Linked DNA regions of Homo sapiens. The protein of the gene in region 3 interacts with the protein of the main gene of each other region in a pairwise test. Each region holds a gene or a part of one and is shown on either strand. Other genes may lie near its edges.

Region 1 (4,213 bases), on a different chromosome or scaffold from region 3:
GGCAACTTGAGTCTTTGCTCCCAGGTTATAATCCTTAAACTTGACCCAAATAAACTGTCTACTTATATAAAAAAAAAAGATGATTAGAAAGCAACAATGTAATTAATTCTAGAAATTGTACCTCAGCATCTTAAAAAATTTGCTTTATGTGAACATATTTAATGTATTATTTAATATTATTTAACTTTAGTTTTATACATGACATAAAGAGTCATTGTACTAATCTGGATATTAGACGAGAATTGTGCCATTTGGATTGGGTAATGGACCACCTAATGATACCCCACCATATAATGAGGTCCCCTAGGGCAGTTCAGAACAACTGCTTCAGTAACATCTGGGAGTTTGCTAAAAATACAAATTCACAGGCTGCACTCAGACCTCCTCCGCCAGGTTTTATGGAGGTAGTTTCTAGGAATCTTTTCATAAACTCTGCATTTGATTATCATGCCTACTGAAGTTTGAAAACATTGAAATATTAAGACAAATGTCCACATTTCTGTACTTGGTAGTATATTTAATTGTTGTGACAATGACAATATAAAGAAAAGAATGAATATCCAATAAGTAATTTTTCAGTTCTGCTCAGTCTTTACACATGAACACAGTCTCTATATTGCAGTCTGAAAATGTGCTTCTGCTATAGGCTGGAAAGTGTTATATCAGGAGCAGCATAAACAAAATTACTAATTTGATCTAAATTTCAAGGGAATCTTTTGTTTCCTGCCTTGTTCATTTCTAAATAATAGACAATACAGAGAACACTATTAAAAACTAGCTAAATTACATTATGCCTTGCTACTTTCCTTAAAATGAATGAAAATGCTGGCCAGCATCTATATTCATTCTTATCAGCACTCCTAATTTCTTCTTCAATGCTTGTCTTTTTCCCGAAGTGGTTCAATGGAAGACAGGAGTTGCTGAAATGTGGGACGCTTTTCTGGAAGCTAAACAAAAACAACAAGAAACCCAATGTTTTAGATGATGAGAGTTATGATCAATGATAAAATATATAAAATATTTACATCTAAGTCCTAAAGCTAGCAACTTTTAAAATGTGGAAACACAACAGACATTTCAATTGAGGTCAGAAATAAGGCAAGGACGCTCACTATAATAATCACTCTTAACATTATGTTGAAGGTGTTAACCAATGCAATTGGAAAGCAAGAACAATTAGAGCCCCAATAACTGGAAAAGAAAAAGTCTCTTTATTTGCAAGCATTTTAGTGTATACCTGGAAAATCTGAGAGTATCAATGTTAGAACAGACTTAAAGAATAAAGGAATTCACTAGGAGAGCAGGATATAAAATTAACATACAAAATCAATAGCCTTCACATATACCTACAGTAACCACTTAGAAGTTATCATGTAAGAGAAAACCCCATTTATAATAGCAACGCCACCAAAATAAAACACTAAAAAAGTGTGCCCCTCTAAAATGGGGACGACTTTAAAACACTGCTGAAAAATGCAAATGTAGACTTGACTATATAAAAAAGCATCCCTGGCCAGGCGCAGTGGCTCACGCCTGTAATCCCAGCACTCTGGGAGGCTGAGGTGAGTGGATCACTTGAGGCCAGGAGTTCGAGACCATCCTGAACAACATGGCGAAACCCTGTCTCTACTAAAAATACAAAAATTAGCCAGCTGTGGTTGTGCACAACTGTAGTCCAAGCTACTCGGGAGGGTGGGACATGAAAATCACTTAAGCCTGGAAGGTGGAGGTTGCAGTAGGCCTAGATCATACCACTGCATTCCAGCCTGAGTGATAGAGCAAGACTCTGTCTTAAAAAAAAAAAAAAAAAAAAAAAAAGCTTCCCTCGTTCTAGACTAGGACAAGTCAGTATCATAAAGATGTCAAATTTCCCAACTTAAAATACAAACTAAATACAATCTCCTCAAAAATATGAATGAGTTTGTTTCAAGCTAAACAAATTGATTCTTTGGTTTATAGAATTAAAAAATATGTAAAAATGGCTAAGAAATTATACAGTAAGGTGAGCAATGAGGGGTGCTAGCCTACCTAGTATTCAAACATATCATAAAGTCTCTACAGAATCAGAGCAGTGTGGTGCTAGCACATGAACAAAGAGACCAAAGAACAGAAGAGGAAGTCTCCAAATAGATTCAAGTACATATGGAAATTTAGTATAATATTAGGGTGGCATTTCACCACCATTAAGGTGGTATCTCATTCCTGATGATAAGATGGTCTTTTAATAAATAGGGCTGCCAACAACAGAATAGTCACATAAAATTATATATTTGGAGCCATATTTAATACCATATACCATAACAAACACAAACTATATCAGAAACATAAATGGAAAATAATGCAATCTTAAAAGTACTAGAGGAAAATCCTGGCAAAAGTCATTATAATTTGGGCATGAGAAAGCCTATCTATGACAATTTCCAGAAGCAATGAAAACAAATATTGATATATTCAGCTATATTAAGAAAAATTTCTGCATGGTCAAAAAAAGAAAAAAAAACCCACCCACCCTCAATCAAATAAAGCTGATAACTTAAAGTATTACTCTCCCTAATTTGTAAAGAGATCTTTAAAACCTGACAGAAAAAAGAAAAAAGACATGACAGTTCAGAAAGACACAAAATGACCCTTAAAAACGTGAAAAGAGGCTCAACCTCATAATGAAAGATATATATATTAAAGCTGCACTAAGATGCCATCAAGCTTTCACTTATCAGATTGGCAAGAATTCTTCAAAAGCTTGACAATGCACTCCATTGGTGAGGTTATAAGAAAATAGGTACCCTCTTACATTGCTAGTGAGGCAACGCCTATGGAGAGGAGAAGTTCATATGCTACTTTTTCTTTGTAAGAGAGAAAGGGAAGCAAGAAAACACACATCTATACATATGCTTGTTTTTGCATACAGAAATACCAGAAGGATGAATCAAAATCTAATGAAAATTGTGAATGTTCTTTCAATCTCTTTATGAATTGAGAAAGTCACAAAATAAAATCTAAAAAAGGAGGGAAAACCCAAATCTATAAGCTCTGCTCATTAGGTGCAATGTTTTAACTGGATATTGTCGTCTCAGTGCAAACCCCTCTTCACAGATTCTGCCACAATTCACATGCTTTTATGAACCAACCATGAGAAGAAGGCAGTTCCTCCCGACTCAGGGCCCCTGTCCATCCTATGGTGCAGTCATATTCCCAGGAGCTAGAGTAGGGAGGGCCAGGGAGGTTCTGGGCTTCAACTGAAAAACCCTTGTCTGCTCTTCTTCATCTGACAGGTGACAGCAGTAAGTCAGCCTGGCTGTGACCAACTCTACCCAGACCCAGTCTGACCCTCTAGTGCTGCCTGATAATCTTAGACACAATATTTTTGTTTGTTTGTTTCTTTAAAAAGCCTTTATTCATTTTTTAATCAGGGAAAAGGACAATCTCAATGTCAATTTGTCACCTAATCATAAATTTGAACTTACAGGATTCGCTACCCTAGACACTGCACCTACTGACAACACACAACTTAAAAATGAACTTCCTTCCATTCCCTAAAGTTAGATAGTTGCATGTTGAATGAATAAACAGAATCCCTTCCAACAGCTAACATTGGTACTTGGCCTAGGTGTAAGGACAAATAGCGAAACAGCAGCAAAAAAGACCAAGAGCATTGTAACTTGATAGCCCAGCAAGTACAATCATTGTAACAAAGTTGTAGGCACCAAATTAAAAAAAAGCGGGGGCTCATCAGCATAAGAAACTTACACCAGTTTTGTGAGAGCACTCGTTGTGTGAGATCAACTACTCTGCCTGTGAACACATATGCCAATCCCAGTAGCTAACATTGAGGCAAAGGTCCCAAAATCCAACTAACTACACTGAATGCAAAATCCAAAGCTTTTATTTATCCAGGTCCTCTGAAACCTGGATATAAAACAGTTTCTTTTCAATGCACCATGAGGGTCCACTGTAATGATTCAGTCACATTTGGATTGAGTAACGCACCTAAGATACCTTTTCCACTATTCCTGTCTGAATACGGAAATGTTTAACTACTCAGTTCATGCACTAACTGTGTTAAAAGTTAGATTTACTATCAAGACTTTTTCTAAACTCACACAGCATTAACAGTTAACTGTAATACAGCTTCCTCAGAATGCCCAAACAGAAAATATTTTGTTCAGTCTTGTGGTGGCTGTGAGAAAACAAAATACAACTAAATCTTATTTTG
Region 2 (4,803 bases), on a different chromosome or scaffold from region 3:
CCTGATCTAGAGTTGAATAATGTTGTTTTGTCTTTCTGTGGTTAAATAATATTGTTTTATATGCATTGTTTTGAATTTTCAGAAGCATGTGCGGTGCACGTGTTTTTTGTTTTTAAGGTGAAGGGCTGGAGAAGGGAGGGAGCAGATGGGAATGGCACTTAGTCTGACAGAGATCCTGAGGAGAGGCCCCTATCCGTTGGTCACTGGTGTTCTGTGTTAGGTAACCTGACCATCTATTGTCTTCTTCCCTGGTACAGTTCCCCTATTTCCCTGCTTTCCTTCTCTGTGTTTTAGACTTGCAAAGAAAGGAATGCAAGCATGTGGTCTGCTTTCCCAGCTCCTTGGGGATGCTTGGTATGTGTAGTTCTCCTTCTTTTACCTCTGAAAATATCAATCGTTGCCTCTTTCCCTCATGTCACCCAGATCCTGAAAGGCATCTTGGAGGGTGCTTCCCACATCCTGCCTGCATTCCGGGTCCTGAGCAGTCTTCTCTCCAGCTGCAGTGATTCTGTTGCCTTGTATTCCTTCTGCCGGGAGGCAGGGCTTCCTGGGCTGCTGCTGAGTCTACTCAGGCACAGTCAGGAGAGCAACAGCCTCCAGCAGGTAAGCACCAGGCCAGAAGCCTCTGAAGACTTACAGAGGTTCTTTTTCTTGGATTTATCTCATTCAGATTGCCATCTCTCTTTGGTCTGACTGCCTTTTATTTTCTTTCCTCCTCTTTCTAGTTAGTAGACTATTAATTGCAAACTCTAATGCCTTCTGGGGCCAGGCAGATAAGGTCTGCCATGAAGTAGGCTATGCATGTGACTATATGAGTTGTGGGGAATATGATGAACTAGAGTTCACATGCCTCCTCTAAATAGAGTAGAGGCATCCTTTCCTCAGCCTCCAGCCCATTGTTGCCACAGGGAAATATGGGCCTGAGAAAACTAGCCAGATCTTCTAGTTTTCTAAGAAAAGGTAGAAACCCAAATTTTTATGTGTAATTTTTAAATATTTAGAGCGCTGTGCTTTGAAATGTTAGATCCTAGGCTTCATTGACCTGATCTTACAGAGCAGAGTACTAAAATTCAGAGGTAACTCATACACAGTCACTAATTTGTAAATGGTCACAGAGATAACAAGTGGAAGAGCTGGGATAGAGACTCAATGTGTTTGGGGCCAAACCTCTACTTCCCCCTGCTGTGTCCTACGGTAGCTGGACTGAGAGGATGGGGAATGTTTCAGAGTCAGTGTAAATGCCTAATAGGGCCTAGGATGAGGCAGCTGGAAAGCTGCACTTTGTTGATGAGTATTAATCTTGGGTGATTTTAAGGAATTTAGAGAAAAAGATTTTTGAAAAATAGAACCTCCTATACTCCAAAATGCTATTCAGGCCAAACAAGACACATTTAATCCAGGCTGTTCACAGCCCATTGGCAGATTCTCTGTTACCCCTAGAACTCTCTCTCTGCCTATACTTCTCTTCTGTCCCTTTCTGTTTGATCAACTTGACTGGGTCTCTATACACCCTTTCTACTGTTTTTTCTATTCTTTGTTTCCATCCTTCACATTGCCCTTACTCTCTTCTCCTTTTCCTGGGCAGCAATCTTGGTATGGGACCTTCTTACAGGACCTGATGGCTGTGATTCAGGCCTACTTTGCCTGTACCTTCAATCTGGAGAGGAGCCAGACAAGTGACAGGTAGGATAAGAAGTGCTTTTGCATTGTTGGCAAGTTTGGCTTCTGTTTCTACCCCAAGTGCCCTTCCCATTTAGGAACAGGCCAAGTATGAAGAAGCTGTGATTTGTTACAGGTTTAGGAATCAGCTGAGTGGCCACTCATAGTCCTTTTAAGGACCCTAAGACAGCTCCAACTTGGCCTCAAGACTTACAGTTTCTAAGAGTCAGCAGTCACCATGGTCCTAAAATGGAAGGGTCAAGATGTGAATAACCTATTCCAGGAAGCCAATTGGATTAAAGAAAGAAAGAAAGAAAAAAAATATGCGAATAACCTAGAGAAAATGGCAAAGAAGGGGCTTGGAGGGTGTATGTGTGTGTGTGGCAAGGGAGAAGGGAGGAACATTCTGATGTGTCCCTTTGCAGAGATTCTCCTACCTGCCCAGGACTGACCCATTCACCACATCCAGGCTTTTAGTAGAGAGATAAGAAATCATGGGCTCATTTTCCACCCCCAGCCTGCAGGTGTTTCAGGAGGCTGCCAACCTTTTTCTGGACCTGTTGGGGAAACTGCTGGCCCAACCAGATGACTCTGAGCAGACTTTGCGGAGGGACAGCCTTATGGTAATCTGCTCCCACTTCCAGATTTCTGTGTCTCCTATCATTCTCCGTGTTTCTCCCATCCCCTTTCTTATGACTATGTAGGGTCAGATCAAGTTAATATGACAAACATTTGTTAAATTCCCACCATGCCATATGCCATGTGAGTAAGAAAAAGTGCCTGCCTTCAAGGGACTAGGGATAATTTAATAGGGGAGAGGTAAAGGGATTAAGGACAACAGTGAAAAGTACATTAGAACTTTGCATATAATACAAGAGCACTGCTGTATTTTATGAAGAAGATGCAGTTAACCACTGCAGAAGATGCACTTAACACTATTTGGAGTATCATAGAAGAAATCTCGAAGAAGGAAATCATCTCTGCTAGCATTTGAAGAATACATCGCAGTTTGCCACGTAAATGAGGCACAAAGTAGAAATTCTATACAGAAAGAGTAACATATATAAAGGCCCAGAGGCTTTAAGCAGTTTGGCATATTTCAGGGGACCACAAATAGAACGACTTCTTCTTGAAAAGACTTGCAGATCATCTAGTATTGTCTAACCTCGTTTGTCCTGAGGATTAGTAGACTATGCAGTTCTTTTCCCTAGATCCTGGAGGTAAGGGACAGGAGAATGGAGGATTGAATGAGAAAATAGCTGTGTTCTGACTAACCTCAGAGGAGATAGAGAGGAACATATATTTGTAAGGAAGTAAATAATTGCCTGGTCATTGTTAAAACTGGTAATTGGGAACATAGATCTGGACTACTACTTGCCTTTAGCTAGCATTCACTCAGACTTTCCTGGTCTGAGATCCTGTTTTAATATCCCTCACCCTTTCAAGTCAGAAAGCTTTTACTGTCTAACCTAAATTTTGGCCAGCAGTGACTCATGCTATTGGCCAGCACTTCTCATGTCATATGCTATGAATAGAATGGGGAGTTTGGAATAATTACCTCCTGAAATTCTGAATCAGTAGGACTGAGTTGGGAGGGACCCAGGAATCCCTAGGATTTCTTCTTTTCTTTCCTTTTTTTTTTGGAGACAGGGTCTCTCTGTCACCCAGGCTAGAGTGCAGTGGCATGATCTTGACTCACTGCAACCTCCACCCTCCGGGCTCAAGCAATCCTCCCATCTCGGCCTCTTGAGTAGCTGAGACTATGGGTGCACACCACCAGACCTGGCTATTTTTTTTGGATTTTTAGTAGAGACAGGGTTTTGCCATGTTGCCCAGGTTGGTCTCAAACTTCTGAGCTCAAGTGATCCACCTGCCTCGGCCTCCCAATCCCCTGTTGGGATTACAGGCATGAGCCATTGCACCTGACCCCTAGGAATTCTTATACTCACAGTCTATAAAAAATACTTTGAGAAACATCATCTAGGGAGCATCTGATCAGAGAATAGAAGGATTGACACCTAAAATTATTGTCCTTGAAGCATGAATGAAAGCAGTTCTAATGCATTTTTGGTGTGAAGAATGCTTAAAATTAGACATGTGTTTGCTTTGGTTTTTGTCCTCTTTCCTCAGATCCTCAGGGTTTTCTTGTTTTTTACACTAAGCCCAGTCTTCTGATGCCCTGATGCTACCTCTGCACTTCTCTCCTTTAGTGCTTTACTGTCCTGTGCGAAGCCATGGATGGGAACAGCCGGGCCATCTCCAAAGCCTTTTACTCCAGCTTGCTGACGACACAGCAGGTTGTCTTGGATGGGCTCCTTCATGGCTTGACAGTTCCACAGCTCCCTGTCCACACTCCCCAAGGTAACCAGAGTGGAGAAGGGAGGTTCTCTTGACTTACTTGTTGCATAGGTCAGGCTCCGCTCTTTCTATTGCCATCACCTAGATCGCACCTGGCATTTAGTAGGTGCTCAATAAATAACTGTGAACTGAGAGAATGAATGGGGATCTGAGGGAAACAAACAGACCTCATCCTGCATTCTTCCCACTCCCTTAGGTTCCCTACTCCTGCTGCCATGTCGGTGAGTACTGGTGCTATTGTCTAGGGCAAGAGCCTCAGGCCTTTGGAGTTACTCTTTGCTTTTCTCCACAGGAGCCCCGCAAGTGAGCCAGCCACTGCGAGAGCAGAGTGAGGATATACCTGGAGCCATTTCCTCTGCCCTGGCAGCCATATGCACTGCTCCTGTGGGACTGCCCGACTGCTGGGATGCCAAGGAGCAGGTCCGAGCTACAATTGGTTGTTCCTCTCATCCTACTGCCAGAGGAATTGAGGAGGCTAGCCCCAGTTTTTCAGAAAGGCAGAAAAACAAGCTTTTAAGCCCCTCCTTTAGTACTTCCAGAAACAGATGCTCCCACCCTGGGCCATTTGTAGAACATGATATAGCCAGAATCCCAGAGCCCATGGCCAGTTGGTGAGGGAGAGAGCACAGTGATAAACTGCCCAGATGGTGGGGCAGCTGATCTGAAGCCTCCAGTGATGCTTCCTCAAGGGCTGAGAATTCAGCTTTCCTGATCCCTGTTGGTCGGTAATCCTTTCCTCTGTACCTGGCTACACTGGGGCCAAACTAGGCCATGACTTTTGGTTCT
Region 3 (4,740 bases):
TAATCCCAGCACTTTGGGAGGCCAAGGCGGGTGGATCACGAGGTCAAGAGATTGAGACCATCCTGGCCAACATGGTGAAACCCTGTCTCTACTAAAAATACAAAAAAAATTAGCTGGGCACGGTGGTGGGCACCTGTAGTCCCAGCTACTTGGGAGCCTGAGGCAGGAGAATGGCGTGAACCCGGGATGCGGAGCTTGCAGTGAGCCGAGATCGCGCCACTGTACTCTAGCCTGGGTGACAGAGCGAGACTCAGTCTCACAAAAAATAAATAAAAATAAAAATAAAACAGCTTCATTGAGGTATAATTGGTATATTAAAAAACTGGACATATTTAATGTATCTAATTTAATGAGTTTCGAGATACACATACATCCATAACACCATCATCACACTCAAGGCAATAAACATATCTATCACCTCCAAACATTTCCTGCTGCCCCATCTCCCTTTTTGTGGTAAGAACACTTAACATGATTAACATGAAATCTACATTCTTAAAAAAATTTTAAGTAGGTAATACATTTTCGTTGACCATAGGCACAATGCTATACAGCAGCTCTCTAGTACTTATTCACCTAGTATAACTGAAACTTTATACCCATTGAACAACAACTCTCCATTTCCCTCTCCCCACAGCTCCTGGCAACAACTATTCTATTCTCTGTCCCTGTGAGTTTATTTCAGATTTCTCATATAAGTGGAGTCATGCAGTATTTGTCATTCTGTGCCTGGCTATGTCACTTAGCATGATGTCCTCCAGATTCATCCACCTTGTCACATATGCCAAGATTTCCTTCTTTATTGAGGCTGAATAATACTCCGTTGTATGTATATAACATATTTTGTTCATTCATTGATTCATTCATTTTTTTTTTCTTTTTTGAGACAGTGTCTTGCTCTGTCTCCCAGGCTGGGGTACAGTGGCATGATCTCAGTTCACTGCAACCTCCACCTCCCGAGCTCAAGTGATTCTCCTGTGTCGTCCTCCCGAGCAGCTGGGATCACAAGCACCCACCACCATGCCCAGCTGATTTTTTTTTTGTATTTTTAGTAGAGACGGGGTTTCACCATGTTGGCCAGGCTGGTTTCGAACTCCTGACCTCAAGTGATCTGCCCACCTTGGCCTCCCAAAGTGCTAGGATTACAGACCTGAGCCACCATCCCTGGCCCATTTATTCATTTTTGATGGACATTTAGGTTGTTTCCATATCTTGGAATAATTGTGAATAATGCTGCAATGAATATGGGTGTGCAGATATCTTTTCAAGATCCTGATTTCATTTATTTTGGATACATATACAGAAGTGGGATTGCTGAATATAATAGTTCCATTTTTAATTTTTTAAGGAAACCCAGTACTGTTTTCCATAGTGGCTGCACCATTTGGCATTCCCACCAACAATGTACAGGGTTTCCATTGGTCCACATTCTTGCCAACATTTGTTATCTTTTGTTTTTTGATAATGGCCAACAGGCATATGAAAAGGTGCTCAATTTCACTAATCATTGGGAAAAAGCAAATCAAAACCACAATGAGATATTAACTTACACATATTAAGATGGTTATTACATGTGTATCTTTCCGGCCAGGCTCTGAGCTCACAATCACAGGGATTGTGTCTTTTTTGTCTTTATCTCCAAAGTCTAGCATAATGCTCATATGTCAATAATTGTTCTGGTAATTTTATCCTAAATTTGCCCTAAATATAATTTCAAAAGAGCTTTAGGGGTAATAGGGCATGAAACAAAATTAAACTATGTTTTGAATTTCTTTCTTCAATACTCAGAGACAGAGAAAATTATAACATTCAATTACATATTTACTTTTATTTACATTAGTAAGGCTGTAAATTATGAATGTAAATGTGCTTAGCTAGAACAAATATTGCTCAGAATAAAAAAGATATACAAATATAATGCTAATATACAATATAGGCTATCATAAAAATTTGTATTTGTGTACACACATACATAATTGGCTACATTCGACAATGGGGTTCATTTGATTCCTCCGTAGTAATTAGAACAGGAGACTTAACTGATTACAGCCATGATGCGGTTACTTAAAAACACACACACACACACGCACACAGGCACAGGCACACACATGCACACCCCACATAAATAAGTTTGGGAAAATTTTAAATTTTCTCACTTAGGACTTTTCAAAGCCATCTCAAAGGAGCTTCCTCAAAACATTTAATGTTGGCATCACCCCACAAGTACTCAGAAATAAGTGTTAAAATAGAAATCCAATCCAGTAATGGGAAACTGACTTAGATTATCTTATTTGTTTGTATATTTATTTGTCATCTATCTCTCTTATTCACTGCTCTATTTTCAACATCTACAATAGTGCTTAGTAATGAATACACATGCAGTACACAAAGGTGCTAACACAATATATGACTAATGATGAGGGCTATGCACATTTATACAGAATGAGAATTATTTAGTCCAAAAAATATCTGGAAAGCATAAATGCTGTAATTGGATAAAGCTAAAATTCTATTACTCTATTGAAATCAGATATCAAGTGATACTTTTAAACTAAACGTGAGGTAATGGTTGAAAAGGGATTAAAACACTGGAATTTGGGCATGCCAAATCCAAATCATTGAATATTCAATTACAGATCTAATAAAGCAGGTAGACCATGAATAGGATAATTGCATATGGAGACCTTGGTTCCAGTCGCGACTATGTCACTGTGAGATTTTGGCCAATGAGGTACAATTTCCTCAATTATAAAATGCATTAGAAATAGCTGCCCTCTCTTCTTTACAGAAGTGTTGTAAGAAACAAATACAATCGAATTTATATACTCTTATTATTTAATCATCCATTACAAGCAAAATGTAAATGTGATTGTCCTTACTACAATCAACACTGAAAACAGTGAATTCAGGATGTTGCTGTGGCAGGCCAGAGGTGGGTCTCTTGAGTCTCCATTGAAATAACTTGCTGGCCAGCAAGTTAGTGGACAGCGTCCAGCTGCGCCTTCTGGATTGGCCACAGCATTTGCAGGTCTTTTTTTTTTGTTGTTTTTCTTTTTCCCAGGATAGCCCCAGACAATGACTTAACAGGATGGGGCACTAAGACCCAGACATTACTGCCCAGCATAACACTGTCTCCTCTCTGGGCAAACTTTGCTTTGGGCCTCACTATGAGCTGGCCAAAACTCTCCCAGAGCTGTGTCTGAATCTCATGCTTTTTCTCCTCACTCCCCACACCTCCCCTCTTCCCTCTCACAGGTGGGAGCCTGAAAGCCCACCCCATACCCATACTTCTGTTTCTTCTCCCTTTTATCTTTCTCAAACATTAACCTCCAATCAGTGTTTGCACTTCTAACTTTGTCCTGGTGTCTGAGTTCTAGAAAACCCGACACCCAATCCCTCAAACCCCAATCACCAGAAGCAGCCCATGTCAGTATTTTCCATTTTATATTTTTTACAGAAGTGTTCAAATACACAAAAATATTGTAAGCTTTTTATTGCAAGATGTTTAATTTCTTTTTTTTCTTCCTTTTCCCCTCATTCTTGCTGTCATCTTAAGGATGCTGAATTTCTACTTCTTTTTTCTTCTTGGAATTATATGTTGTATTTGTGAACAAGAGACGATAAAATATTATTTCAAACGTACACCTTATCAAATGCTAACCCCCACTTGACATTCACCTATTTTATCAACAGCAATGGTTGAGAGGACTCATAGACATTTCTTGAGAACATAGCATTGAATGGCATGGCCTCAATGAATCAGTGAGTTGGAGGTATCAGTAATCTCCCAATAGCTTTTTAGGGTGAGGGTCAGATTCCTTCTTAATGTGAGCCTGGAGCTCTTCTGTAAAGTCCTTGTTTCCATACTGTCCCTGGCTTGTTGAATTCCAGTAGAGAATGACCAGCAACCATACAGCTTTTAGCTTTGACCGGACCAGTGAGTTCTTTCGTATCCAAGCTCCAATTTAAACACTCTTGTCTCTTGGTTCTATGTAATCCTCTGCAGGCATACTCTACGATAGGCTCAGCTGGGTCTCAAAAGTTCCAGCTTTACAAATAGCTTCTTCATTAAATGCTCCTGATGTAACTTATAGGCATCACTTCACATTGACCTTGTGAAAGGAGAACACCTGAGCAGGTATTTGGATAGTGGGTAGATGCTAAGAGCTTTTCCCAGAGAGCTCATTGTCTGCTGTCTTACAAAAGAGATAATCCTGCACATTGTTTTTATTGTTTTCATTTGCTTCTATTGCCTTTTAATTATTTTTGGTTTTCTTTCTGCATCAATGCTACAATTACATAAATACTCTATGAATTTCCTTTGTAAGCTTTGGTAGCATTTGACATCATGATATACTGTTATTTTCGACAGACAGTATGTTTTTTAAAAAAGCTTATTCCCACTAGAAGAGTTTATTTATTTTAAGGTGGTAAATCTGTATTTTCAAATTGTTTCTATCTTTCTCTCTCTCTCTCTCTTTTTTTTTAAATTAGCTTTTCAACTTGATTGTAAAATGTCACAGCGCAGAGAATGTACCTGGGAAGATGAGCTTGCATGGAGCCAGGCAAAGCAGATTACAATCTGGGCTCTCTTCTCATATTGAGTAAGATCAATAGCTACTTCGAGCCTCTGTTTCCTCATCTTTATTGTAAAACAATAATAAAATTAAATCCTCTTAACCTCTACAGGGAATAATATCATGGCCTGTGCAACGTTACTGCAAGAATTAGCACTAATTT
Region 4 (5,416 bases), on a different chromosome or scaffold from region 3:
GTAATTAAATCATTATAACGAAGCAAGGATCTTGGAGGAGACAGCAACTTTTGTTTTCTCTCCTTTTTTTTTTTTTGTATTTTTTCTAGTAATTACACTTCCTGAACAATCAGGAAAAATGACTTGTGAGTTAGAAGTGTAATGACTAGAATTTAGGCAGGTTAAAAAAGAAAAGGAGATAAAAAGGAGGTACTATTACAGGAAGAGTAACAATGATGTATGCCCTGGAGGAGAGTGTTTAGGAAAATTGTAAAATGTCCGATGTGCTTGACATGTAGTGGGCGCTGGGAAGGTGATGAGCAGATACCTAAGGGATGGCTGCAGAATTAGGGTTTCCTCCTTCCGGCATTAGGAGGCAGTTGAGCAGGTCTGTATTTTAGAGCAGCAGTATGGAAAACAGCCGAAGGAAGAGAGGGCCCTAGAAGGGAAACCTCCAAGGAGGCTGCAAGGAATGAGGCCTGCACAAATCTTGTTCGTTCACTTACATCGATTGTGCTTCTACCACTGTGCTTCTACTATGTGCCCAGCACAGTTTTAAAGGGTTGGGGATACAGAAATGAACTAGACAGACAAGGCCCCGGCCCACATGGAGTTTGATATTCTACTGGGGAGAGACAGACAATACAAAAACAAACAAGTAAACAGCAAGATTATGAGGAGTACAAAGAAGTAAATAACAACGGGGTGTCATGAAATAGAGTAAGGTAGGTGGAAGGTGGGAAGAGCTTCTTTAAAGGGAAGGTCTTTCTGAGGAGAAAATGGAAATGCAGAGGAAAGAGTCAGGAGTCAGGGATCAAAGAACCTGAGAAACCCCTGACATTGTTTTCAACATGTGGTATATAAGTGCATTTTTATGGGGAGATTCTCAGAGGGACATGGCCGTGATCTCATCCCCCCAAATGTTTAGTATTCATTTGCTGTACCTAAATATATAATTAATTTTGTTTTAAATTTTTCTCTATATCAAAAGGTGGGGGTGATGATAGCTATGCAGATATATCTAACTAGATAGAGAGAGATTCTTCCCCCACCCCTCCACTTATTTCATGAAGCTGTAATAGGAGATATGCATTTCGGGGTACAAAATTGGGCTGTGTGATTTACATGTATCCTCTACATGAAAAAAGAAAAAAAATCATCTTTTGTTTTTCCTATTGAAAGGCCGACGACGGACCTGAAACTGACCGGATGAGCTTGGTGTCAACAAGGATGCCTCTTCTTCTATGTTAATATATTGTACAAGCATAGATATAACTTCACATGTATCAATGCGTATATATTGTAGCTTAGTCTGGAGGACTACGTACCGGGCGGTGCTCCTGGCTTGATGTGAGCAGGCGGTGGGAATGGAGGGTGGAGGCGGGTGGGCCGGGCCCCGGGTCCCAGAGGCCCACTGGCCATGTCGCGGAGAGCTCAGCCTGGAGAGGCCCAGGGAAGGGCCTGGAGGCCTCGGGGAAGGCCTGGGGAGGGTCAAGGAAGCCCGAGGAGGCCCAGGAAGGCCGAAGAAGGTCCAGGACGCCTGGGGGAAAGTCCGAGAAGGCCCGAGAAGGCCCGGGAGGCTCAGGCTTTCCCGCGAGGCCGGGGGCGGCCCCTTCAGGCCAGGATGGCCGAGTGGGCTGCGCAGCCCCGCGGGGGAGGCCGGGCGGGGCGCAGGGACAGGGCCTGAGGCTTGTTGTCCTCCCCTGGCGGCCCCGTGCGTCCCGCGGGCCCGGCGGCCGGGTGACCCCCGAGAGGCTCCGCGCCTGGGCGGCCGGCGGCGACCCCGCGGCCCGCGAATACGCGTGGACCTTGTGGAACGCCGGGCCTCCCCGGGCGCCCCCGCTCTCTGGTAGTTGCCGGGAGACCCGGCCGGTGGGGAAGCCCGCGGAGCCGCAGCCCCGGCCCCGGAAGGTCTCTCTGGGCCCCGGGCCCGACTCCCACCCCTGCGCCGGCCCGCGGGCTTCGCAGGCCCTGCACTGCCGACCGGGCTGCGCTCAAGGCCGCCAGCCGCCCGCCGCCCTCTTTGTCCCCCCGCTGCAGGAAGGCCGCGGCAGAGGGGGCGCCCTCCAAGCCGTCAGCCACGCACGCGGAGGCGCTCGGGCCTCGGGGCGGCGCACCGGGAGAGCACGCCGGGGAGGACACGTGGGCCTTCGCGCGGTGGGTTGAGAGCCCCGGCCCCGGGGAATCCCGCAGCCCCCTCCTGCTACCCCTGGAACTGGGCTCCCCACCCAGTCCGGCCACAGCTCAGGAGGAAAAGGGGATTCCTCTTCACGGGGGCCTTGCGGCTCCCTTGAGACACGCGCCTTCAAGCACTCTGGCCCCTAAAGCTCCTGTCCCCCAACTCGCAGTCCCCAAGGCGTCCTTTGTCCCCAGGGCCGTCCTTCAGGTGCGGTGGCCTTTTCCAGGAGCTGGATGCCCTCCTTCTTGACACACACCCGGTGGCCCCAGGCAGCGCCACCTGCTCAGCAACCGCCTTCCTCCTGCATTCAGACCTAGTGTCTGGCATGCACACACTCGTGGACCAATAACCGGTGTTGGCTGAAAACCTACCTAAACTAAATCTCCTATTTCTTCATACACTTTTCTGTAGGAGACAATCAATTGTAAACGATTAGCAGATAGACCGATTACTGCGGTGGCTTTAATTTGTGATTCTTGGCCGGGTGCAGTGGATCACGCCTGTAATCCCAGCACTTTGGGAGACTGAGGCAGGTGGATCACGAGGTCAGGAGTTCAAGACCAGCCTGGCCAACATGGTGAAACCCCATCTCTACTAAAAATATAAAAATTAGCTGGGCGTAGTGGTGCTCGCCTGTAATCCCAGCTGCTCGGGAGGCTGAGGCAGGAGAATCGCTTGAACCCGGGAGGCGGAGGTTGCAGTGAACCGAGATCGCGCCACTGCACTCCAGTCTGGGCAACAGAGCGAGACTCTGTCTCAAAAAAAAAAAAAAAAAAAAAAGTGATTCTTTCCAGATAGCCATACCTTAATCCAGTGACTGTTTTGCTTGTTACCTTAGAGTTCTCTAATTCTTTTACCTTAAACGGCAGTGGGTTAAAACCCTTTAGGTACCTTGATTGATTGGTGCGGAAAATATTGTTTGGTCCTGGGGGCATTTTGTTGTCTCCGAAATATGCACGGGGTGCTTGCCTGGCCTAGTTGTAAGGGTTCAACCCTGCTTTCAAATGGAGCAATTGTTTTGAATGAATAAAAGGAGACTTTGTGCCCCTGTTTTCTAAGTTCCAGATAATTCACCATAGTTTGTTCCAATGTGTATTTCATCTTCTTAGCTGATATTTGCTTTCTCACCTCTGATCTCAATTTCCTAATCTTCTGTTCTGAGATCTGCCAGTTTGCTGTTGTCTGTGCTCCTTTTGAGTCAGGCTTGCCCCTTGCTTCTGGTTGGTTTCGTACTGTCACCCCCACCCTGCTCTCCTAGCCCCTCTCTTCTGCTTTCTAAGCATTCTCTTACCTCCTTTAGATGGGAAATCAAAACTCACACTTTCTTTTTTATAAATGTTGACCCTTACCCATAAATGTGCCTATCCCGCAATCTGTGTAGGATTTTAAGGAAACAGAGCAACAGCTACAACAAAATGGGGAGAAGAAATGAGAACTGTGCTAACAGCCTACGTGTGTCAAACATCTCTCAGGAGGTATGGCAGGCGCTGTTGAACTTGAGTGTTTGGGCAGCGGCTCCTGTTGCTAACACGTAACTCCCATGGAGTTTTCTTGTAGTGATGCCCTTGCTGCGTTTGCATCGTGGGCAGTTTATCCTGTGTTTTCCTTTTGGCACATTTGGAACAGCAAATGGAAATTTTCTATTTCTTTTAACAAAGGGAAAATTAGCCAGCTCTTCTCCAAATGTCAAACATTTCTAATTGCAATTTGGCTTTGTTAAAGGTGCTGCCTTGTTATCAACCAGGCAGTGCTCACTTCTTTTGTTTTCACACACACACCCTTTGTGAAAAATATTGGTAAGGCAGGTGGGATATCACAAAGCATAATCAAGTCCCAACTCTTAAGAAATTTGCAAACTGTCAGACTTCATGTTTAGTTAATGAGCATTCTTTACCAGTTGATCAATTTGGTTATGTTAATTTTTTGTTGTTTTGGTGTTTTTTGTTTGTTTGTTTTGGAGACGAGACTTAGTCTTCCTCTGTCTCCCAGGCTGGAGTGCTGTGGCACGATCTCAACTCACTATAACCCCCACCTCCCGGGTTCAAGCGATTCTCCTGCCTCAGCCTCCCGAGTAGCTGGGACTACAGGCATGTGCCACCACGCCCGGCTAATTTTTGTATTTTTAGTAGCGACATGTTGGCCAGGCTGGTCTTGAACTCCTGACCTCAAGTGATCCACCCGCCTTGGCTTTCCAAAGTGCTGGGATTACAGGTGTGAGCTACCATGCCTGGCCTGGTTTCATTAATTTTATTTTAGAATTGCAACAACACAGTTTCATCAGCTGAGGATATTTCTCTCACGTGCATTTCATACAAAAGTATCAGGATTATATAGCTGAAAAAAGCTTAAAAATCCACCAGACATCGTAAAAAAGTCTGAAGGGGTGCATCTCACACATGAACATAAAAACCCAGTCATCGTGCTGTGAACTACAAAAGGATCTTTAAAATACAAATAACTGGGCCTCACCCTCATTCTTTTTTTTTTTTTTCTTTTTTTTTGAGACGGAGTCTCACTCTGTCACCCAGGGTGGAGTGCAGTGGTGCTATCGTGGCTCACTGCAACTTCTGCGTCTCGGATTCAAGTGATTCTCCTGCCTCAGCCTCCCAAGTAGCTGGGATTACAGGCACCCACCACCACGCCCAGCTAATTTTTGTATTTTTAGTAGAAATGGGGTTTCGACATGTTGGCCAGGCTGGTCTAGAGCTCCTGACTTGAGGTGATCTGCCCGCCTCGGCCTCCCAAAATGCTGGGATTACTGCCACTTGAGCCACTGCGCCCGGCCCTCACCCTCATTCTTTAAAATCAGGATTTGCAGCATTTTTTTGCAACTATTATTTTTAAAAAGCTCCCCAGGTGATTCTCATGTAGAGATTAGCCCTTGTACATATCATGCCAGAGAGCAGAGAATTAATTTTATTAATTATATTTTTCATAAATCTATAGAGAATGATAATCTGCAGTCTCCCTTCCAATGTTCAACTACCCTTCCTATCAGGAGATATCTCTTTGTGGATAAATTAATCCTCATGCTGTATTGAAGCTTATTTCTCTCTGTTCCTCCTTAGTGAAGAGATTGTATCTAATAATACCTCACATTTCATTTGCTTAGAGTTTAATTTACAATGCTTTTTTGAGACAGAAAACAATTGGGTTCATTCCTAAAAAGTTACTTTCTTATAAACGAATCACCTCTTCACTTTCTGTTTTCCAGAATAAATTGTTATAATCTTCTACACACCTCCCACATTTTCCCCC
Region 5 (4,803 bases), on a different chromosome or scaffold from region 3:
TTTTGGCCGGGTGTGGTGGCTCATGCCTGTAATCCCAGCACTTTGGGAGGCCGAGGCAGGCGGATCACTTGAGGTCAGGAGTTCGAGACCAGTCTGGCCAACATGGTGAAACCCCGTCTCTACTAAAAATAGAAAAACTAGCTGGGTGTGGTGGCACCTGCCCGTAATCCCAGCTGCTTGGGAGGCTGAGGCAGGAGAATCACTTGAAAGCGGGAGATGAAGGTTGCAGTGAGCTGAGATTGCGCCACTGCACTCCAGCCTGGGTGACAAAACGAGACTCTGTGTCTCCAAAAAAAAAGAACCCTTTAAAAAATGTAAGGGTAATTTTTGGCTTGGGGGCTATACCAAAACAGGTCATGGGCCAGACTTGACTCATGGGCTTTAGTGTGCCAACTTTTATATATAGCATGTATATAAATTAGTTATTGTATCTAATAGGATATGTAATTCATTCATACAATCTGCAAGTATATATTTTGTGCTCATTGTGTGCTTATGCTGCTCTAGCACTGGGATACAACAATAAAGAAAACAAATTCCTATCCTCAGTGAGTTTACCTTTAATGTGGGAGACAGATAACAAACAAGGGAAGAAATTTAGAGAGGGGTCAGTATTTAGAGAAATACTGTGGGGAACAGTGAAGCAAGGTGGGCAAGCAAAATAGGACAGTGAGGAAGGCTGGGAGGTGGGGTGCTGTTTATGCAAGGGGTCAGGGAAGTCTTTCTGACAGGTAACACCTTGAAGGAAACAGGAGCCAGCTGTGCAGAGAGCTGGGTGGGAGTGTTCTGGGGAGGGGGCATCAAGGGCACAGGCTTGAGGCAGAAGCTTGCTTAGTGTCTCTGAAGAGCAGCAATGAAGCCACACTAGTTGGGGAGGTGGAAATAGGAGAGGAGGTAGTTGCAACCTCACCTTGAACTGTCATAGCACCTATTCGCTGTCCTTGCTTATCTTCTTTGAGAAACTGGGGCAGGGGTCACATAGGATGAAATTTACAATTTGGAGCCTTGTCAAGGCATTGCCACCCAAAGACAAAATTCTGATCCTACCTTTCCTTAAATCCTACAAGCCCTATGTCACTTGGGAGAATCACTACAGAGGAGGATTTTTACCTTGTTAAAATGGAAAGATTTCTTTTAGGGATCTGTGCCTCTTAAACTATAGTGCATGCAGATCACTGAAGGATCTTGTTAAAATGGAGCTTCTGATGTATCAGGTCTGTGGGTATCTGGGTCCTGAGTATCTATCTGCATTTCCAACAAGTTCCCAGATGCCACTGATGCTATTGATCCAAGGTCCATACTTAGTATGACGAGCTTTCTAATCAGTATTTAAATTACAAAATCTTATAAGTCTAACCTTCTAGTTTCTATTTATATTTATTGGATTGTAAACTCCTTAAGAGTAGGAATTATCTTAGCTTCTTGTATCAGACTCAGCACTTAGTTTAGGAAACTGCAATTATTAGGAGCTGAGTGAAAAATACTATTCATGTAAATGCATATATAAGCACACTACTCTGAAGGAAGATATGTGAGGGGAAGATATGTGGATTTTATTGTGCCTTTTGTCTGAATTTATCTTTCACAATAATATAGTTGAAATTAGCCTAGAATTTAGAAGGACAGTTATAATTTTTCCCAGTTAGTAATTTGAATGATGTCAAATGGATTCGTATCCTTTAGAAAATTTCCATTTTTTTCACAAAATTGTATTATATTTTGATATTACTTTAATACATAACTCAGCTAGAATATGTATGTTTCATTTCTGGAATGTATATTCTAAAATTTATATGAAAATGCAGAGGATCTAGAATAGCTGAAACAATTTGGAAAAAAGAATAAAGTTGGAAGACTTAGTCTCTCTCTTTTTTTAACCATAAAGTTATAATAATCAAGAGTGTGGCATTAAAGAATAGTCAAGCCGGGTGCGGTGGCTCACACCTGTAGTCCCAGCACTTTGGGAGGCCGAGGCAGGCAGATCACCTGAGGTCAGGAGTTCAAGACCAGCCTGACCAACATGGTGAAACCCCGTCTCTAGTGAAAATACACAAATTAGCTGGGCGTGTGGTGGCAGACGCCTGTAGTCCCAGCTACTCAGGAGGCTGAGGCAGGAGAATCACATGAACCCAGGCGGTGGAGGTTGCAGTGAGCCAAGATCACGCCACTGCACTCCAGCCTGGGTGACAGACTCTGTCTCAAAAAAATAGAACAATGGGACAGACCACAGGGTCCAGAAATAGAGCCAAACTTAACATGGTTAAATGATTTTCAACAAGAGAGATGAAGAAATTTAAGGGAGAAAGGAAATTCTTTTTAACAAATAGCACTGGTACAACCAGATATCCAAATAGAAAAGAAACATATAATAAAACACACGACTCAAAAACATTATGCCTAGTAGAAGAAGTCACACATGGCTGCTGGACGTGGTGGCTCATGCCTGTAATCCCAGCACTTTGGGAGGCCAAGGCGGGCAGATCATGAGGTCAAGAGATTGAAACCATCCTGGCCAACATGGTGAAACCCCGTCTCTACTAAAAGTATAAAAATTAGCCGGGCATGGTGGTGTGTGCCTGTAATCCCAGCTACTCAGGAGGCTGAGGCAGATGAATTGCTTGAACCTGGGAGGCAGAGGTTGCAGTGAGCCGAGATCGTGCCACTCCACTCCAGCCTGGCGACAGAGCAAGACTCCATCTCAAAAAAAAAAAAAAAAAAAAGTCACACACAAAAAAGTGCTTACTGTGTGGTTCCATAGAGGCAAAGCTAATCTATAGTGATAGTGTTTAGAATAGTGGCTGCTTCTAGTAAGGGGTACTGACTGGGAAGGGACCATGGGAGCTTTCTGGGTTGAAGATGTTCTATATACTTTGATATGGAGGGATCATTCAGTACTAGTCAAACCGTGCACTTCAGATCTGTTTATTCCACTCTATGGAATTTAAACCCCAATCAAATACAATGTACCTGTTTTTTGCTATGCTAATAAAATCTCTTGTGGTTTTGAGGTACACAAAAATAATGAAGCTACTTCATTTTTCTTTGTCATCCACATTTAGCACACTATTACGGAAAGAAGAAAAATAAAAGAATTGGGAGGCCACCTGGTGGGCATAGTAACTTAGCTTGTGCCCTGAAAAAAGCCAGTAAGAGGAGAAAGAGGCGGAAAAATGTTTTTGTTCATAAGAAGAAACGCTCCTCTGCATCTGTTGATAATACCCCAGCGGGCTCTCCCCAGGTATGAGATCTGTGATGTGCCTGTAATGTCTTGAAGCCAAGTGACCACTGCTTTATAGTATGGACACAGAATACCTGCAGGTCTTTCTAACTCAGATCTCTGGCCAATAGAAGATGGTTTTGTGGCCCAAGAACTGGTTTGTCCTGAATTTCTTTTCTTTCTTTATTATTTTTTTTTAATCATATGAAACCTGGGATTGATGTCCTGAATTTCAATGAGACTTCTCTCCTTTTCCTGCAGGGAAGTGGGGGTGAAGATGAGGATGACCCAGATGAAGGGGATGATGATTCCCTAAGTGAAGGCAGTACATCCGAGCAGCAGGATGAGCTACAGGAAGAATCAGAAATGTCAGAAAAAAAGTCATGCTCCTCTTCTCCCACCCAAAGTGAGATATCCACATCGCTGCCTCCAGATAGACAAAGGAGAAAAAGGGAGCTTCGCACCTTTTCATTTTCTGACGATGAAAATAAACCTCCTTCACCAAAGGTACCATTTAAAAAATAGTTTCTTTTTTCTTTCTTTCTCTCTGGAATTTCCATCTGGAATATGATTATTAGTGATATTGACATTCTACTTCTTTCAATACAGACTTATGTAGAATTTCCAGGGTCTCTTGTAAAGTGACCCCAAATGCAGTGATTTACATGTGTTTCAAGGATTAGTTGAGATCATCTACTTATAGGGGGAAAGTCTCTCTCAGAGTAGCTGCTTGTTTTAACAACAACAACAAAAAAAGCCCCATTGCTAGCTTATTTGTAGCTTGTCATTTATTTTTGGGAAAACTGCCTTTTTAATATGTTTCATAATATATATGGTTTTGTAGAAAAAAGTTATCCTTTTGATTCTGGTTAAGCCATTTGGCTTAATATATTATTTACTATATACATATGAACATTTTATAACATATGTATAACACTAAAGAACAATTTAGTGTTCAAAAACTAGATTGCTTTTTAAGAATATTCCATGAACAGAAGCAGTAAAGATTCCTCCTGGTAGTTTAGTTAAGCCTTCTCTCAATGGAATTATCATCCCCTTCTCTTCAGCACCCTGTTTTTCTTAGTTAAATTGTCTAAATTATCTGTGCTGGAACTTTGAGATAAATTCTTTCCCATTGATACTTCGTATTATAAAAGACAGACATTTCCTGAGTACCTGATGCACGTGGGTCTTTGCCATCTTTGCTGGGAGAAATCATGTCCTAAGACCACTTTAAATCATGTCTTGAAAGATTATGAATTTAGGTAGAGAGACTTTTTTAGAATAAAATAGCCGTAACACCATTTGGTTTGATTGTGTTGTGGGGAATGAAGGAAATAAGGATCGAAGTTGCTGAAAGGCTTCACCTGGACAGTAACCCCTTGAAGTGGAGTGTGGCAGACGTTGTGCGGTTCATCAGATCCACTGACTGTGCTCCATTAGCAAGAATATTCCTAGACCAGGTAATCACAGATACCTATAATTTTTAGTAATGTCTCTTTAGCAATAAATTATGGATGTAATAGTCAACAATTTATTTACAAGTTTTAGGAAAAATGTTTTGATCCAAAAGACAAGAATTGTCT
Region 6 (5,443 bases), on a different chromosome or scaffold from region 3:
CCTCCCTCACCCCTGCTGACCAATTCAGCCCAGAAGAGGTACAGATCTCATTCTGAGTCATTCCAGGGTTGTACTGGTACAAGAACAACTGCATTTTTACTATAACCCATGGAATATAAGAACATTGCAGATCTACATTCTTGGCCAGAAAAAAAAAAAAAGAAAAAAATTCAACCAAAGCACTATACCTCTTCAGTGGTAAATATTTTAGGAATGTTAGAGGTTCATGAAAATCACACCTAAATAAAATGACATTCCCACTCTTGGGCTCTTATAAATGAAGAGATTTTGGGGATCTCCAGGTTGATGACTCCTAACTTTCCCAGTGTTTTTTTCCATGAGCTATTGATTAAAGTTGGGTGTAGCACTATATTTTTTTCTCTTCCAGCTAAGCTGTTCCCATCATTTGGGAAGTTTTAGAAGCTTCTGCAAGCCCCTAGGATACCATTCTATGCATCAAAACCATTGTATTTAAAATGATATTTGAGGGACATTGGAAAGGTTTTTTGCAGTCTCCACCCAGGCTTGTCTTGCTCCTGGGAAGCAGTTGTACAGCACAAGAATCTGATGAACAGAAGTTCCCATGATGCATTGAAGGGTTAGTGTTGCCATCTTGCTCTGTTCCTTAAGGCTGGAGTTAATGAGGAAGAGTTTTTATGTGAATGTCAGGCATGTTGCAATAACTAGCCACAATGGAATAGTCATGGCAATTTCCACCACTTGGTTTCTTTGTTTTTGTGATGTTGCTGCATGCTTCATTTTATGAGTATTTTCTTTTCTTACGTGTGGTTGAGCCCATCTATTGCCATCTTGGGCTTGAATACTTGTATTTAAAAGAGATGAACAGAGAGAAACTGGAAAACTGACAGAATGACATATCCTGACCTCTTACTATTTTTCATCCCCTACTTCTGCTGACAAATATTCTGATGAGTTTGTGTCCCAAGGTGAAGGAAAAGAAAAGAAAAAGTACTGTGGAAACCAGGCTTCTTTTGGTTATGTTAATATCATGGATACAGACCAAGCCTAGTAGTATTCCCACTGAAATTAGATAAATGAAAACTGCCAATAGTCTTTTAGTTTTGGCTTTCTGGGGTAAGTCATTTGTGTCCTTGAGGACTTCTGTCTTGATCAAAGCATCTACTACCTGATTGCTAATTTATATTGGAGTGGTAACAGTAGAATAGAATATAAGGACTTGTGAAATTCTAAGTGTCTGGTGGCATCCTCACTCATTTCATTCATGATGGTGAATAATACTGTCAACTGCAGAAAGGCCTACCTGGAGGATATTGTGTGCATTACATACCTAGATTCCCAAGATGGAAGTCCTTGCATCTGTGGCAATACATGTGATGAACTACTAGGAGCAGACTTTCTTGTAACAACCTTTTGAGGGCTCTGGTCAACACAAGCAGAAGCGGTGGCGAGTCAGAGCTTAGGTGGGGTATGAGGCTGAGGATGTTGAATTCATAAGGATAAAGTGCCACTTTATAGACGTAACATACGCAGGGAATATACCTCCATTCTTAACAGCCTGTGTTCAGAATTTTATACCCTTCTAACACTTCCATCACCTTCCTCTCTTCCCTGCCTATACTTGGAAAGGATGCCAAAGCCTTCCTTAGTGCTTCACCTATCCAGTTTCGAAGCTGTCATGTGCATCCGATCCGATATTTCAAAGCAACCCTTTTGCCATTTTTCACTGTGTTATTCTCTCCGTATTACTACCGGATTTTTTTGGTTGTTTGTTTATTTTTTTATGACCTGACATCAAATCCTGTCTAAACACTAACACTTTTTCATGTTAAAATAAGTCAGTTTAACAAATAAGGCCAGGAAGAAGGCGAAGTGTCTCCCTGCTGTTACCCTGTTCTGGAGTTCCTCGACTTCTGGCGCACGGGGAGTGTGTGTGTGTGTGTGTGTGTGTGTGTGTGTGTGTGTGAATGCGTCAAGAGGGAGACACAAGCTCGGCCTTCGAATTGGCCAGCCTAGTGACCCGCGAGCCCGCCCCCACTCTTCCCCCTCCCCCTCCGGCGCTCACACTCAGGAAGCAGCTGGCTACAGGCCGGCCCTCGCGGCCGCACACACATCCACACTCCTCGCCCGGCTGCCTTCCTCCCTCCCTCTTCCCCCTTCCCCTCTCCCTGCAGCCGCGTCCACACTGCGCCGCCCGGGCAGCCCAGAGCGCGGCGCGCACGGGCACCGGCGGCGAGTGCCGCGGCCACTGCCCCTCCCGGGACCCCCTGTACGCCGTCCGCGCCGTCCAGGGTCACACCGGCGACGGAACCCGCCGGCAGCAATTAGCCAGCATCCCGGGGTCGGCCCCCAGAAGCATTCCCCGGCCCAGGACGAGGATGAACAGGACAGGCGAGGCACAAAGTCGCAACTGAACTTTTTAGAAACATTATTTGTGTGTGTATGTGTGTAGCAGGGGAGAATGAGCTGATGCCGAGGGTCCAGCCACCCCGCCTCTGCCTCCTCCTCCCCCTGCCGCCGCTGCCCTCGCAGACGCGCGCGCACACACGGCACTTGGGCCGGGTTTCCGCGCTCCGTCCCCCCGTTTGGATGGGGGTTTTCATTTCCGAAGGAGGCACAGCCCGCGGAGCGCTCTGAAGGGCTGGAGCCCCAAGTTACTCCTCGCCAGCGCCGGCCGCCCGCTGTCACTCGCGCTGGCCGGCCGGGGGAAGGGACCCGCACGCCGGGCTTTGTTGTGGAAATCCCGGTTACCTGGTAAGTGGATGCCATAGGAACTTTGCTCGCAGGCGAGAGACGAGGAGAAACCGGGCGCTTGAGAGTGTGGGGGAGTTAAAGCTCAGAGACGCAAACTAGGGATTACAAATAGTTTTCTACGCTGAGCCGGTGGCGTTCGCGCGGGTTTAAGGATACGCGCACCTCAACTCCCGGCGTCACAGGTCACTGAGAGACCTGCGCTGACTGAGACTGATAGCAACAATTAGGGTTCAAACCATGTTTCTGTCAGTGGCCTAAGAGCGCCCAGTGTAGAAGACAGATAACGGGGCTTTAAAGTTGCGCTAATTCGGAACAGTTTTTGTGTTTTCATTTCAAGTAGAGCGGGCAGAGGGGTACACAATCAGGGCACGTTACAGGACGCACGGGCATGGGGCGCACCACTCTGGAGTCCCCACTGAAGGGAAACTTTGGCGAAGTGGGAACTGATGGGGTGACGTGAGGTCTCTCGCGCACACGCGGGGCTGTAGTTGTCTTTTCAAGTTCCACGTGTTTGTGGAGTTTCACGAAGGCTGTTTTCCACGCCTGTGTCTCATCCAAGCCGGTGTCCCCATGATTGCGGGAGGTGGTCGGGCTGAGGGTACCTACACTCCTCGCGGGTACCGGCCCGGCGATCCGCAGCCGCCAGGTCTGGAACTATAACCTCCCACGCCGCCAGGACGCAGACACAGCCAGACACGAACCCTCCCCGCCGGGTTCGTCACCTCGCGTTTACATTTTTTATGGGGCCCGACAAAATGTCAGCACTGTTTGGAAAATGTCTCAGTCTCGGAGACGTTGTCCTGCGCGCGGCTCCAGTCCCTATAAATGACCCTGTGTGTATTTTGAAGTCGGCCCGGGTCGCTCTCTGGAAAGCGTGAGTGAGCCGCCGGCTCTCTCCTAGACACACACCTTGCCCCGAGCGACAGTTCCAAGTTACTCACTGGAGCTGACAAGTCACCTCGGGGACCGGGAAGTCACTCAAGTGTCTGGAAATCTTGGCCCTGGCTGATTTGTCATCCTATGGATGATTCAATTAGGTACCTGGCGGGAGAAACTTTGGGGAAGGGTTTCTGGCTCCGCGTTCGCGCCCTCCGACTTGCTGGAGGTGTTTGGGAGGCGAGAAGCGAAAGGAAACCACAGGGTGAGGACACTGGCTCGGCGGGGACCGGGGGGCCGGCGTGGGGGGACTGCGAGCCCGGCCGTGGCGCCCCCGGGCTACAGGCTCCGGCCAGGCCGGGCAGCGCGCGCAGGTCCCCGGCGCCCGGGCTTCCCAGCCGCAGCACCCTTTCGGCCCCCGACTCACTCAGGAGCGAGTTGCACAACAGGAAGCCGGCACTAGTTTGTTTTGTTGCGCTGCGTTCGCTCCCTCGCTCGCTCGCGCACGGGGCCGAGGGTTAGGGGCGGAGGCGGCGGGGGAGTGACGGGGTCGCAGCCGCGCGTACCCCGCCGGGCGCTGTCGCCTCCGCCTCCGGACCCGCCCCTAGCTCCGCGCCGAGGAATCTCCGACCCCGGCAGCGAAGCCAGTCCTATAGGGAACCGATAAGGGCCGCCCTCCTCCTGCCTTGTCCTACGCGCCTCTCCCCCGCTCCCGGCACCTCTCCCGACTTCTCCAGCCCTCCTCTTGGCAGGAGTGGTCTCGAGGACTGAGACCACTGCTCTGTGTGCCTCCTTGAGCCCCACGCTAGTTTGCCCCGGTATCCGCTTGGCCCTCATCTCTGGAGCATGTAAACCTGGGGAAGGGGTAGGGAGGTGCTTCCGGAATCACAGGGAGTAGGGTCCGTAGAGACAGGACTCGTGGAGTCGCGGCCCCGTTTCACAAAGAGGGTTGCTCTTGCACCCTCTCCCCGAGCCGGCAGAACCAACTTCCTCCAAGACTTCAGCATCTCCCGAGAGTTGGGGCCCCAGGGCCCTGGAGTTTGTGAGAAGAGGGAAGTTCTGCAGCTCCCCCCAGTGGACCAGGTCCCTTTAGTATGGGGCCGGGAATCTCGAGGAGAGACTATTAAAGCTAGAGTGGACCCTGGCTTCACCTGATGAGGAAACCGAGCCCCAGAGACGTTAGAGGTTTTGCCCAAGGCCTCACAGCCAGTTGTCGCAGACCCTTAAAGTTCTCAGGTCCCGGTTAAGAGAGCATTTCTTGGCTCGAAGATGACCTCAAGACAAATGCAAAGTCTGGTTCTGTCCCCTCTGAAAGCTTTGATGAGTCATGATTTCTGCCTTGGGAGTAAGCCAGACTTCTGTTTCACCCTCTGTCTTGTTCCTCACTGGACCTCCCTTTTTAGACTAAACTTTTTTTTTTTTTTGGGTACAAAATCGACTTGTGTTGGTTTAAACCTTCCTACTTCTTCTCTTTTATCTCCTCCTAGTTTGTTTCCGCTGGTTCTGTGTGAAGCAGGTGCAACCTGTAAAGGTTTGCAGAAAAAGAATCCGCCACGATGAAGGTCGTTCTGAGAAAGTTTGAAGCAATTTAGACAGGAGAGTGTTAGATTATATGCATTTTTTTTTTTTTTTTTTTTTTTTGCAATTGAGAACAAGCTGAGGTGTAAGGATCATCTATAACCGTACTGCAGTTTTCATTTATTTTCACTGGTCATCTGCGCAGCCAGACTAGCTCTGAGGCTACCTTTGAAAGGAAGTGTAGGGGACATTTTTTTTTCGCTATTTTCAAAACACCTGTCCTTATTGGTAGTTTGTAATTGCTTTCTTTTCTTGC

What was found.
Region 1: the proteins of CLNK (region 3) and BMX interact in a two-hybrid assay, tested with the Homo sapiens proteins (one large-scale study listed by BioGRID and IntAct).
Region 2: the proteins of CLNK (region 3) and STK36 interact in a two-hybrid assay, tested with the Homo sapiens proteins (one large-scale study listed by BioGRID and IntAct).
Region 4: the proteins of CLNK (region 3) and FAM217A interact in a two-hybrid assay, tested with the Homo sapiens proteins (one large-scale study listed by BioGRID and IntAct).
Region 5: the proteins of CLNK (region 3) and SFMBT1 interact in a two-hybrid assay, tested with the Homo sapiens proteins (one large-scale study listed by BioGRID and IntAct).
Region 6: the proteins of CLNK (region 3) and GLIS3 interact in a two-hybrid assay, tested with the Homo sapiens proteins (one large-scale study listed by BioGRID and IntAct).

Annotation. Positions count from the first base shown.
Region 1 is NC_000023.11:15,552,807-15,557,019, reverse strand, and holds the end of BMX (cytoplasmic tyrosine-protein kinase BMX), read right to left. Parts: intron 948-4,213; coding exon 873-947; 3' UTR 501-872; downstream 1-500. UniProt on the Homo sapiens protein: Non-receptor tyrosine kinase that plays central but diverse modulatory roles in various signaling processes involved in the regulation of actin reorganization, cell migration, cell proliferation and survival, cell adhesion, and apoptosis.
Region 2 is NC_000002.12:218,688,274-218,693,076, forward strand, and holds part of STK36 (serine/threonine-protein kinase 36), read left to right. Parts: intron 1-423; coding exon 424-603; intron 604-1,585; coding exon 1,586-1,683; intron 1,684-2,176; coding exon 2,177-2,282; intron 2,283-3,869; coding exon 3,870-4,020; intron 4,021-4,309; coding exon 4,310-4,437; intron 4,438-4,803.
Region 3 is NC_000004.12:10,484,592-10,489,331, forward strand, and holds the end of CLNK (cytokine-dependent hematopoietic cell linker), read right to left. Parts: 3' UTR 1,804-4,740; downstream 1-1,803. UniProt on the Homo sapiens protein: An adapter protein which plays a role in the regulation of immunoreceptor signaling, including PLC-gamma-mediated B-cell antigen receptor (BCR) signaling and FC-epsilon R1-mediated mast cell degranulation.
Region 4 is NC_000006.12:4,075,572-4,080,987, reverse strand, and holds the start of FAM217A (protein FAM217A), read left to right. Parts: upstream 1-1,850; 5' UTR 1,851-2,136; intron 2,137-2,932; exon of another isoform or gene 2,933-3,513; coding exon of another isoform or gene 3,514-3,573; coding exon 3,574-3,633; intron 3,634-4,508; exon of another isoform or gene 4,509-4,599; intron 4,600-5,416.
Region 5 is NC_000003.12:52,905,990-52,910,792, reverse strand, and holds part of SFMBT1 (scm-like with four MBT domains protein 1), read left to right. Parts: intron 1-3,059; coding exon 3,060-3,238; intron 3,239-3,478; coding exon 3,479-3,724; intron 3,725-4,551; coding exon 4,552-4,680; intron 4,681-4,803. UniProt on the Homo sapiens protein: Histone-binding protein, which is part of various corepressor complexes. Mediates the recruitment of corepressor complexes to target genes, followed by chromatin compaction and repression of transcription.
Region 6 is NC_000009.12:4,296,711-4,302,153, reverse strand, and holds the start of GLIS3 (zinc finger protein GLIS3), read left to right. Parts: upstream 1-2,085; 5' UTR 2,086-2,733; exon of another isoform or gene 2,734-2,853; intron 2,854-3,657; exon of another isoform or gene 3,658-3,874; intron 3,875-5,443. UniProt on the Homo sapiens protein: Acts both as a repressor and an activator of transcription. Binds to the consensus sequence 5'-GACCACCCAC-3'.